Linked DNA regions of Homo sapiens: region 2 is linked to region 1. The links come from fine-mapping of genetic effects on gene expression. Tissue or cell type: whole blood. Region 1 holds a variant in brackets; the other region holds the start of a gene. Each region is shown on its reference strand, or each on the opposite one. Region 1 overlaps SETDB2-PHF11 (SETDB2-PHF11 readthrough). Region 2 holds the start of RPL18 (ribosomal protein L18).

What was found. PIP is the estimated chance that this variant, and not a neighbour inherited with it, causes the effect.
Region 2: RPL18 starts here. The variant in region 1 is fine-mapped to the expression of RPL18 in whole blood (TOPMed, PIP above 0.99).

Annotation. Positions count from the first base shown.
Region 1 is chr13:49,528,105-49,533,476 of GRCh38, forward strand. SETDB2-PHF11 (SETDB2-PHF11 readthrough) reads left to right here. Exons shown (of 21, transcript NR_135324.2): 21 at 407-872. It overlaps PHF11 (PHD finger protein 11), which reads left to right. Exons shown (of 10, transcript NM_001040443.3): 10 at 407-872. The coding sequence ends at 561. RCBTB1 (RCC1 and BTB domain containing protein 1) reads right to left here. Exons shown (of 13, transcript NM_018191.4): 13 at 3,842-5,372. Among named protein-coding and RNA genes, the nearest start is that of PHF11, 35 kb to the left of the region's middle. The variant C/T (reference allele first, on the strand shown) is at 2,342.
Region 2 is chr19:48,616,433-48,621,804 of GRCh38, forward strand. RPL18 (ribosomal protein L18) reads right to left here and starts at 2,746. Exons shown (of 7, transcript NM_000979.4): 1 at 2,709-2,746; 2 at 1,359-1,445; 3 at 884-991; 4 at 294-392. The coding sequence starts at 2,711. SPHK2 (sphingosine kinase 2) reads left to right here and starts at 3,074. Exons shown (of 7, transcript NM_020126.5): 1 at 3,074-3,111; 2 at 3,970-4,121. The coding sequence starts at 4,083. RefSeq lists enhancers at 1-554, 1,387-2,217, 2,488-3,167, 3,328-3,417.

The sequences.
Region 1 (5,372 bases):
GACACATTTTTAGGAAGGATTTGTCCTTAACCTTGGTATTCTAGCCACATTCTCCAATTATCATCTCTCAATAAATGGATATAGTATAGCATGAAGGTTATACAGTCACTGTTTTCAAGTTCTCAAAGATATACAAAGGGACTTGTTCTGCTATAAATGTGCACAAAATCTTAAGGGTTTACTGAACAGCTTTGTGTATGATAAATGTTAGAATTCTGTCCTGAATTAGAAGGAGGAAGTGAAGGCATAAAGAAACCAGCTCCTGCCCATAAGGCTCTGGATCCTTTTCACCAGAGGCACGAGGATTGTGTATCTGTACCTGCAAGTGAAAGGGGCTAGAAATGGTACATTATTTCTAATAAAACTACTGAATAAGCTGAAATAATTTTATTTCTTCTTTTCATAGCAATAGAGAAAAAAATTCATGCATCTCAACAAAGGTGGCAGCAGTTGAAGGAAGAGATTGAGCTACTTCAGGACTTAAAACAAACCTTGTGCTCTTTTCAAGAAAATAGAGATCTTATGTCAAGTTCTACATCAATATCATCCCTGTCTTATTAGGGATTACCGTTTCCTAAGCCAAGAGTCATGTCAAATTGCAATCAGGCTCAAAACCAGAGACCAGGCTGTGAAATCCACACATCTTTAGAACTAGTCGTCTCCTCTTGGCCTCAGCAGCTCTTCCCTGTTCTTACTGGTTGACATTTTGATCACTCTTTGCACACTCTTGTGTTTTTTGCTCACTGTCACATTCCCAGCACCTAGTATGCTCAGTAAATGTTTGTGGAATAAGTGCATAAAATGTTCTTAACCTTTGATTCTACTTACAGCCCATGATAGCCTCTTAGATATAATAAATTTGGATTATACTACTTTACTTGTACCAAATTTGCCTGTTTTCGTGTCACAAAGTCTGCTTTTGAAAAGTCTCTTTTCAGCCACAGTTATCACGTGGAGATTCATCATCTTCAAAACAGACACCTAAATTTTAAATTGGACTCTGAATAAGAACATTATCGGGAGTATGCAAGAATGAAAAAAAAAATTGACAGTTACATTTTTCTCAATCTAATATACGATTCTGGTTTTTATGCCCACACTATCACGTCTGACCCCTGAAAACTTAACATTCACAGTTCTCATTTTTTACCATGGTACTCTGATTTTCAATAATGCTGCGTCTCAAAATGGGTTTTAACTGAGTCTCCAAGCATGGTGTCTGACATGTAATAAATAAGTACTGGAAAAATATTTGCAGGAGATGAAAAAGAACAGTCCATTCCAGTTGTAATGGCAGCCCTAGCCTAAGTTCTTATATCTTAGGGACAAAATCTAAACCAGTGGATTTCAAATCCGGCCGCACATCAGAATCATGTGGGGCACTTTAAAAACTACAGAAGTGAAGACCCCATCCAACACCCTCTGAACAGATTTCCGCTAGTCTAGATGATTATTGATTACTGTAGCTTCAGCTTCCTATCCTGATATTAAGTCTTAGCAAAGTTTTTGGTTGTTGTTTTGTTTTGTTTAAGACGGAGTCTCACTTTGTTGCCAGGCTGGAGTGCAGTGGTGTGATCTCGGCTCACTGCAACCTCTGCCTCCTAGGTTCAAGCGATTCTCCTGCCTCAGCCTCCCAAGTAGCTGGGACTACAGGCGCGCACCACCATGCCCAGCTAATTTTTGTATTTTTAGTAGAGATGGGGTTTCACCATGTTGGCCAGGATGGTCTCGATCTCTTGACCTCGTGATCTGCCTGCCTCGGCCTCCCAAAGTGCTGGGATTACAGGCGTGAGCCACCACGCCCAGCCATCTTAGCAAAGTTTATCTGACTAATCATTCTGATGTCATGATCTTTATTTAAAAAAAAAAACCTTTGTCCCCCACTTTACTTTCACGTTTAACCTGTGACTCACACAGCATGTAACTGTGCACCATGGAGCACCATGTGTTTGGTGGCCATGAGGCTGGCTACTGGGCAAACCCGAGTATGGGTTCATAAGGCGGAGCCGAGTATGAACTTCAGCTATGTCACTACTGAAAAACTTGAATCCGATTATTTAATCTGAGAATGCTGCTGCCTACCTTATGGGACAAAATATGGACAAGTAAGTAAAATGTGAAGCAGAGAGCACAATGTCTGGCACTATGGGAAATAAATGTTAAAACACACCCATGCACGCACACACTCCCCTTGCTAACATTTCTGTCTTATTTTCTCCATTCTAACCAAACTTAATTATGATAAGCTCTGGAAGGCTCATTAGCCCCCATCTCTTGTGCCTCTTTTTGTTTTGGAGATGAGCTAAAAGGACACTTTATATTTTCCCCTATCCAACACAAG[C/T]GTTATCTTCAGAACAACTAACTGCTTGTCATGTTAACCCTATTAACTGTATTAGTCCGTTCTCACACTGGTATGAAGAAATACCAGAGACTGGGTAATTTATAAAGGAAACAGGTTTAATGGACTCAGTTCCGCATGGCTGGGGAGGTCTCAAGAAACTTACAATTGTGGCGGAAAGGGAAGAGGCCCGTCTTACGTAGTGGCAAGTAAGTGAGAGCACGCAAAGCCCAGGGGGAACTGCCATTTATAAAACCATCAGATCTCATAAGAACTCCCTCAATAGCATGAGAACAGCATGGGGAAACCGCCCCCATAATCCAATCACCTCCCAACAGGTCTCCCTCAACAACTGAGGATTACAATTCAAGATAAGTTGGGTGGGGACACAGAGCCAAACCACATCATCCTATTTGGTTTTCTCTCACTGACTGTTATGAAAAGCTCTTTATAAGTATCTCATTGTGTTGTTAATTCCTAAACCTATCTCCCTCTCTCCTAATAATTCATATGTTCTTTGAGGATAGGGAATATGCCTTTCCCTTCAAGTACCCCCAAAGGTACAGACACATTTTTCTACTGTGCCAGTTCAACTGTACTACCCTTCAGCAGGAATAAAATCCAAAGATTTCTATGATGTTTGTTTGTGTATAGTTGAGAATCAAGCAGTTGACATGTTCATGCTGGTACCTATTTTTAGCCTGATACCCATTAAGAATCACACCACTGATTTTTTTTATTATGGTAAAATATATATATAACCTAAAATTTGCCATCCCAATCATTTTTAAATGTATGGTTCAATGGCATTAAACATTCATTTTTGTGCAACCATCACCACCATGCACCTAAAGCAGCAGTCCCCAACCTTTTTGGCACCAGGGACTGGTTTCGTGGAAGACAATTTTTCCACGGACCATGGGGATGGGGCGGTTGGTCAGGGGTGGGGAGGATGGTTTTGGGATGAAATTGGTCCACCTCAGATCACCAGTCATTAGATTCTCATATGGAGCACACAACCTAGATCCCTTGCATACTCAGTTCACTGTAGGGTTTGCACTCCTATGAGAATCTAATGTTCTAATGTTGCCACTGATCTGACAGGAGGCAGAACTCAGGCAGTAATGCTCACTCATCCGCCACTCACCTCCCGCTGTGCGACCTCTTCCTAACACGCCAGGGATGAATATGGGTCTGTGGCCCGAGGGTTGGGGACCCCTGACCTAAAGGACTCTTCATCTTGGAAAACTGAAACTCTGTATCCATTAAACAAGTTCCCCATTCTCCTCTCCCCTCAGACCCTGGCAATGACCATTCTACTATGTCTCAATGAATTTGACTAAGTATATCACACAAATGGCATCACATAGTATTTTTCTGTGAGTGGCTTATTTCACCCAGCATAATATCCTCAAGTTCACCTCTGTGCACCATGTGTCAGAATTTCTTTCCTTTTTAAGGCTGCAGACTACTGATTTTGAAGGAAAAAAACAACTCTATGTGCCTGTTTTAATGTTACTTTGTTTATTAACATGTCGTTCTAAATATTACATAAATACAGCTTACATACTAGAGTATCAAACATTGTTCCAGTAAGAAGTTCAAGAGTACATTTAGGGCTATCTTAAGAAATATGAATACTTTGGCTTCCATTATTACATTAGATGAAAAAATCAATTCAAATAAGAGTTGTCATATCCTGCTATGATTAACAAAAAAACAAGTAGAAAAATAAGAGAGTGTATTTAAAAAAAATAATCAAATGCTTTTTGAAAGACCTGTTCTCTTCACTGCCACACATATTCATACAAATGACTTAGTAATCTAATATGAGAAGTGGTCCTTCACTTATATTAGGAACTTGGTAAATATTTGTTGAATGAATGAACTATCTATGGATATGAATTTACTACTTTAATTTGTGCTTTTTTTGAAAAAAAGTTTTCAAGTAAGAGCAATAGTAAACATACTGAAGTTCACATTTTGCTCAGATCATAAGCCTATAGAACAGTGATTGTTACAAACACCACCCATCATAGCACAAATCAATGTGCATTTCTGAAGCTAGTAAGAAAAGTTCTATCATGTTGTAGAACGAATTCTAACCGACTAATTCACTGGGCTTCAATCACTTGTGATATGGTCAAGAAAAGGGGGCTGGGGCTCCTAGGCTTGTATCTATTTCAGCTATCAGTGAATTCCTATCTTTAGGGCCTCACTCCCCTTCCCACCCCAATAGACACAAATTTAAAAACATTGCTAAAAATAGTAGTTGTAGCATGTCTTCACCCACTTGTAATTTGGCTCTGAAAATGTATTCAGGCTCCAGGTTCAGAAGAGAGACTTTCCAAGCAGGAGACAAAATTCACTAAGGGAACTCACTCAAATGGAAATGAGTTCATGGACCAGAGAGCAAAGCAAAACATTGCTCTTAAAAGCAAGCTCAACGGACACACATGATGAAACTCACAGTTGAACACTCTTACATCCCAAAGTCACCTTCCATAACCAGTTCAAATAAACTACTGTCTTTTAATAGGATCTTTTCAGGAACACCATAATTTTGGTGCTTTTTCAAGGTGAAATTGTGCTGTTATACCTAAGATGTTTAAAAACAGAGGAAAACCAAAAGTGAAAGATGATAAAGTTTCACATAAGCCAATGTGTGATGGATTTGGCCTAAAGTAGATAAAGCAAATTCCACTAAGTCTTGTAAGAGGGTTGACTTGAAGAACCACTTCTTCCAGTCATATATAGTAGATATGATGATTCAGCAGTCATAATTTAGGAAGGCAAGAGTATACTATACATGTCATTATTTTCCTCTTAAGTTTGCATTTATAGAAGAAGGTGGTGGGGGACAATTTAAACTTGAGTTCTCAAGTTCTACCTTAATGAAATAAAACACCATTGGATAAGTAGTGGAGATTCTAATTTATAAAATATTCACCTTCATCAAATTTCTTTCATTATCAACTTTTCACGGATACTTCTAAATTACTATTCTTTATGCACTTAAATCTTAAGAGAAATC
Region 2 (5,372 bases), not on the chromosome of region 1:
GACCTGTGCAGAGGTGACAAAGGAGTCTAGACTTGAGCCCAGGCTGTCTGGCTCTAGGGGCCAGCACTAACAGTTTACAACTTGCCCCAGAAGAAGCTTGCCCAGGGGACCCCACCATCAACCATGCCAGAGACGACCCACACCAATCCTCAAAGCCACTCAGACAGGCAGGATGCTTGCCTCACCAGCGGTGGCAAGACTGAGGATGGACCAGCACAGCACAGCACAGCACAGCACAGCACAGCACAGTACAGCAAGGGTCTGATGGGTCTGCCCAGCCCCCGCCAGCTCACCTTCAGTTTGGGTACCTCCTGAACCCGCACATCATCAGTTATGGTCCCCACAACCACGGCCGTCTTGTTTTCCCGGCCAGGAAGCTTCATCTTCCGGATCTTAGGGTGGGGAGGATGTACGTCGTAAGTTGTTCTGGTGTTTACATTCAGCCCCGCTTGAGGCATCCCCAGGCCAGGGCAGCTGTGCCCTCTAACGGGACCCCCCACTCACACCACACCCCTTAAACCCCACAGGCCTCTCCTCAGGTCCAGCTGGGGAAAGCTCCAGATAAAAAAAAAAATGCAGACTGTTCAATAGGGCCTCCCTCAGCAGAGCCTTTGACATAAAACTCAGTTATGACTTGGGGCAATCTCCTGAAGCCACCAGGACACCTCCACCTCACAAAGAGAAGGAGAGGAGGACCAGGAGACTTGCCCACTGCCCATGGACACTCAGTTCCAACCAACAGTCCAAGCTCTACGCTCGCGACTGGCTGAGACAAACCCTTGATGCCCTGGTTGCTCCCAGAGCTCCAAGTCCTGCCTCCCTTCCAGACAGACAAGACCCAGCGGCTCCCAGGTCTACCGTGCTCTCTGGACCAGCCACTCACCATCCGGGAAAGGGACAGAGGCGGCCGGTTGGTGCGACTCATAAACAACCTCTTCAACACAACCTGGTTGAATGTGGAGTTGGTTCTTCTGGCCAGAAACCTGTATAACTGGAGGGACGGGAAGACAGTGAGAAGCTGGGACAGCCTGCTCCCCCGCAGCCTTCCAGTGAAGGGGCAAACACATGATGATCTGGACTAAAATAATCTTTATCCCTTTCCCCCAACCCACCGACCTAGAGGGAGAAAGCTGGCCCAGGTCCTTCCTGGCCAAGGACCTAGAAAATCCTGGCTCCACTCCCGAGCTGTACACAGCCTAGAGGCTGAAAATACAAATGCAGGAGACCCTGGAACAGAACCAGAGACCCGAGACTGCTCTGCAGGCCCCTGGGAGGAGCTTGGTGCCAGCACTAGAATGGAGGATCTGCAAGTCAGACCTGGGGTGACCCTTCCCAAAGACCTCAGGGCCCAGCCTCACCTTGACCAACAGCCTCAGGTAGATATCCTGGCTCTTGGGCTCCTTGCGCCGAACCTTTCGGTCCTTGTTATGGCGGATGTCCACTCCCTGTGGGGGTGAAGAGGCAACCATGGACCCAATTACCCCCAACCATAGCCAATTATTACTTATTTCTGAAACTGAGAGCTGGGACACAAGCCCAGGTCTGAACACACCAGCTCAAATCCCAGGCCCACCACCAGGAGACCTGTGGGCTGCCACTGATCCCTCTGTAAAAAGGGGCTGTTTACAAAGCCTTCAGCCCATGGCACACAGAACCCTGAAACATCGTAACACAGCAATCATATTAACTTAATACAAAAAGGTCAATTCTTTACAACTTGTATTTTGCAACAATGTTATCAAAACTGGTTCCCATACCCGGAGGGATAACCAAAAATATCAAACCAATGGCAGTAATGATGAAAACGAATCCTTATTCAGAACCTAGCAATACTACTAGAACCACCTCTCCTACAGCATCAGTCAATCCAACAACCCTTACCAAATAGTGTCTTTTTAAAACATCGTTTTTAAAGTGGAGACAGGGTCTCACAATATTGGCCAGGCTGGTCTTGATCTCCTGGGCAAGGAATCCTCCCGCCTCGGCCTCCCAAAGTGCTAGGATAACAAGCGTGAGCCGCCTCGCCAGGCTCCTACCGCCCTGCTGCCTTTCTGAGCAACTTAAGTTTTTCAGACTGTGTTGACAATTACAAGAACTATTTAATAGCTCCACTTATGCAGCACTTACTGTGTGCAAAACCCCGTGATGAGCATCTCCTGTGAATTATTTCTTCCCAAATTCACAAACTTGTCAGATGAGATTACTGTGTACCCAACGAACAGCCAGACACTGGGGCAAAGGCTCAAAAACCATCACAAGGTGGGAAGGGGCCTGAGACTCAGAGACCTGCCTGGTCCCCAAATCCAGTTATTCGGCTCTCGATCCTCTCACCCGCCGCGGCCCCCATCGAACCCGACTTTTCATACTAGAAAGTGACAGGTCCAGATAAAGGCAGCAAAGCCAAATAACTAAGAGTGGCTGCGGGTCCAGCCACCTGGGTCGGAATCCTGGCTCTGCCACTTCCTGGCTTTGTAAACCCAGTCATATCAGCCTCCGAGTACCTCCACTTGGTCATCTACTAAGTGGGGGCGGTAGGCTATGACTGACCCATCCCTGCTTTCCTGGCCCCCAGAGTAGGTCCCCAGTATCGGGAATTGCTCCCTCCGGGCAGCCGCAGACCCCCTGCCGCCCTCCAGCGTGCCCCTAGCCCAAAACCACGGCGGATGGCAGCGGATTATCCAGCCCCGAACGCCGCAAAGCGAGCTCACCATGATGGCGCCTCCTGCTCGGCCAGGTCCGGAAAGAGAGAACGGGCTGGGGTGGGCGGGGAAAGCCTCAAGCGAGTGGCGCCGCCGTGACGTCACATGGGTGCGACGCGGCGCTCTACCACGATCCGGACTTCTCTGTGGTGAGTTGGACGACTGACTAGCCGGGCGATAACGGCAGAGAGCATAGAGCGCAGGAACAAGCGCAACGTCCAAGAGGGAAGGGCCAGCACGTCGGGGGCCTCTCTGGCCCTACCCAGGCCGTGTTCTCGATAGCTTTCCGGAAGAAAGGGATCTGGGAGCGAGATGCGTGTAGCTAGCACGATGCGTCGCGCGGTGACGCTCTGGCCCGACGCCGACGGCCTCTCAGTGGCTCCCGGAGGACCCGGCGGGCCCAGTGTTGGAGGTGAGGAGGCGGGGCTGGCAGGGCTAGTCGGGGCATCTGGAAATTTCCGACCCCACGCTTCGGGCGTTTCCTTATCAGGTTCACCGCTCCCTGATCTCGCGCTGCACTTCGTAGGCGCAGCCGCTGCTTGGGAAGTCCTACTTAAGGTCTAACCCGAGATGATCTTGCTGCACCTCAATCTATAGCATCCTGTATTCCCATCCTTTGAGTTCCGCTTCTCCTTCTCCCCCGGCCCCTAGATGGCCCTTCCCTGACCTAGAAAGAGGGAGACAGAGTTTCATAGGGGAGGCAAAATGGAGACTCCGTGGCTTGGGGGTGGGGGGAATGGAGGCCCAAAGGGTAGGAAGGAGACCTAGAAAGAGGGGTGAGATGGAGACCCAGGGAGAAGTAGTGGCAAAGAAAGATGGTGAGATGGGGCCTTGCAAGGCTATAACCAAATTCAAATCCTGGCTCTGCTAGTTACTAATGGGGTGATTGGGCAAGTCATTTAACCTCTCTGTGATCTTGGGAAAATCACTTAACTTCTTTGGGCCTTACTCTCCTTATGGACAAAAAGGGGATGACAACAGGCCTGGCACACAGGGGTGTTTTTCAGGATTATGAAAGTTAATAAAACTGCTGAGGTCAATATTTTGCACATAATAAGTGCTCAATAAAAATTAGCCTTCACTCCTATTATAGCATACATATTGTGTGCAACCAGATGGACTGGCTGGGGCAGTGATTAAAATGACTTATCTACTCTTCCCCCCACCCGCCAGGGAGGCCCCTGCCTCTTGGTTCTCAGGCACATTGAGCCTGGAAGGGCCTCCTGCAGTTGGCTGTCAATGCTGCTCCTCACTTACCTCTCCTCCACAGAGCTGAAGGTCAGGCCAGGACAGTGAGACCTGACTCCTTGCTCCTACCAGCCTACTATGGCTTAAGACCCAGGGCCAGGGTCCCGTTGATGTAACAGAGCAGAGGACCAGCAGATGAATGGACACCTTGAAGCAGAGGAGCAGCAGGACCAGGTAAGGGACCATCTAAAAGCCAAGATCCTCATACTGTGGAAAGACAAAATCTGAAGCTTTTCTTTAAAAAAAAAAAAAAAAAATTGGAGGCCAGGCGTGGTAGCTCAAGCTTGTAATCCCAGCACTCTGGGAGGCCAAGGCCTGCGGATCACCTGAGGCCAGGAGTTCGAGATCAGCCTGGCCAACATGGTGAAACCCCATCTCTACTAAAAATACAAAAATTAGCCAGGCATGGTGATGCGCACCTGTAATCCCAGCTACTCGGGAGACTGAGGCAGGAGAATCATTTGAACCCGGGAGGCAGAGGTTGCAGTGAGCCGAGATCGCGCTGCACTCCAGCCTGGGTGACAGAGTGAGACTCCGTCTCAAAAAAAAAAAAGAAAAAACAGGGTCTCACTCTTGCCCAGGCTGGAAAGCAGTGGCACAATCACAGCCTACTGCAGCTGCAACCTCCTGGGCTAAAGTGATCTTCCCACCTCAGCTTCCCAAGTAGCCTCCACCATGGCTGGCTAATTTTTTTATTTTTATTTATTTATTTATTTTGAGGTGGAGTTTCGCTCTTGTTGCCCAGGCTGGAGTGCAATGGCACGATCTTGGCTCACTGCAACCTCCGCCTCCCGGGTTCAAGCAGTTCTCCTGCCTCAACCTCCCAAGTAGCTGGGATTACAGGCATGCGCCACCACACCCAGCTACTTTTGTATTTTTCATAGAGATGAGGTTTCTCCATGTTGGTCAGGCTGGTCTCAAACTCCCGACCTCAGGTGATACGCCGGCCTCGGCCTCCCAAAGTGCTGGGATTACAGGCATGAGCCACTGCACCCGGCCAATTTTTTTATTTTTTCTAGAGACTAGGTCTCCCTCTGTTGCCCAGGCTGGTCTTGAACTCCTGAGCTCAAGGGATTCTCCCACCTCAGTCTCTCAAAGTGTTGAGCTTACAGGCATGAGCCACCGCGCCCAGCCTGGGAGCCCTTCCATAAGTGATTTCAGACCTTCTCTCCAGGCAGGTGTTCCAGTGGGATAATTTAGGAATCAGAGAAACTGAGGGGTTGAGGAGGATACTTATTATTTATTATTTAGGTGCACTGGCCCAGTCAGATTAACATCGAAAAAGACTGAGCACCGAACAAAGAGTCAAGTTACATTTTAAGTATTTCGTGGGGTAGGGGGAGATCTGTGCAGGGGGAAGCATATTATAGCAGCGAGAAACAAAGACAGTTATTCAATTGAGACATGCATTACATTATTTCTTAC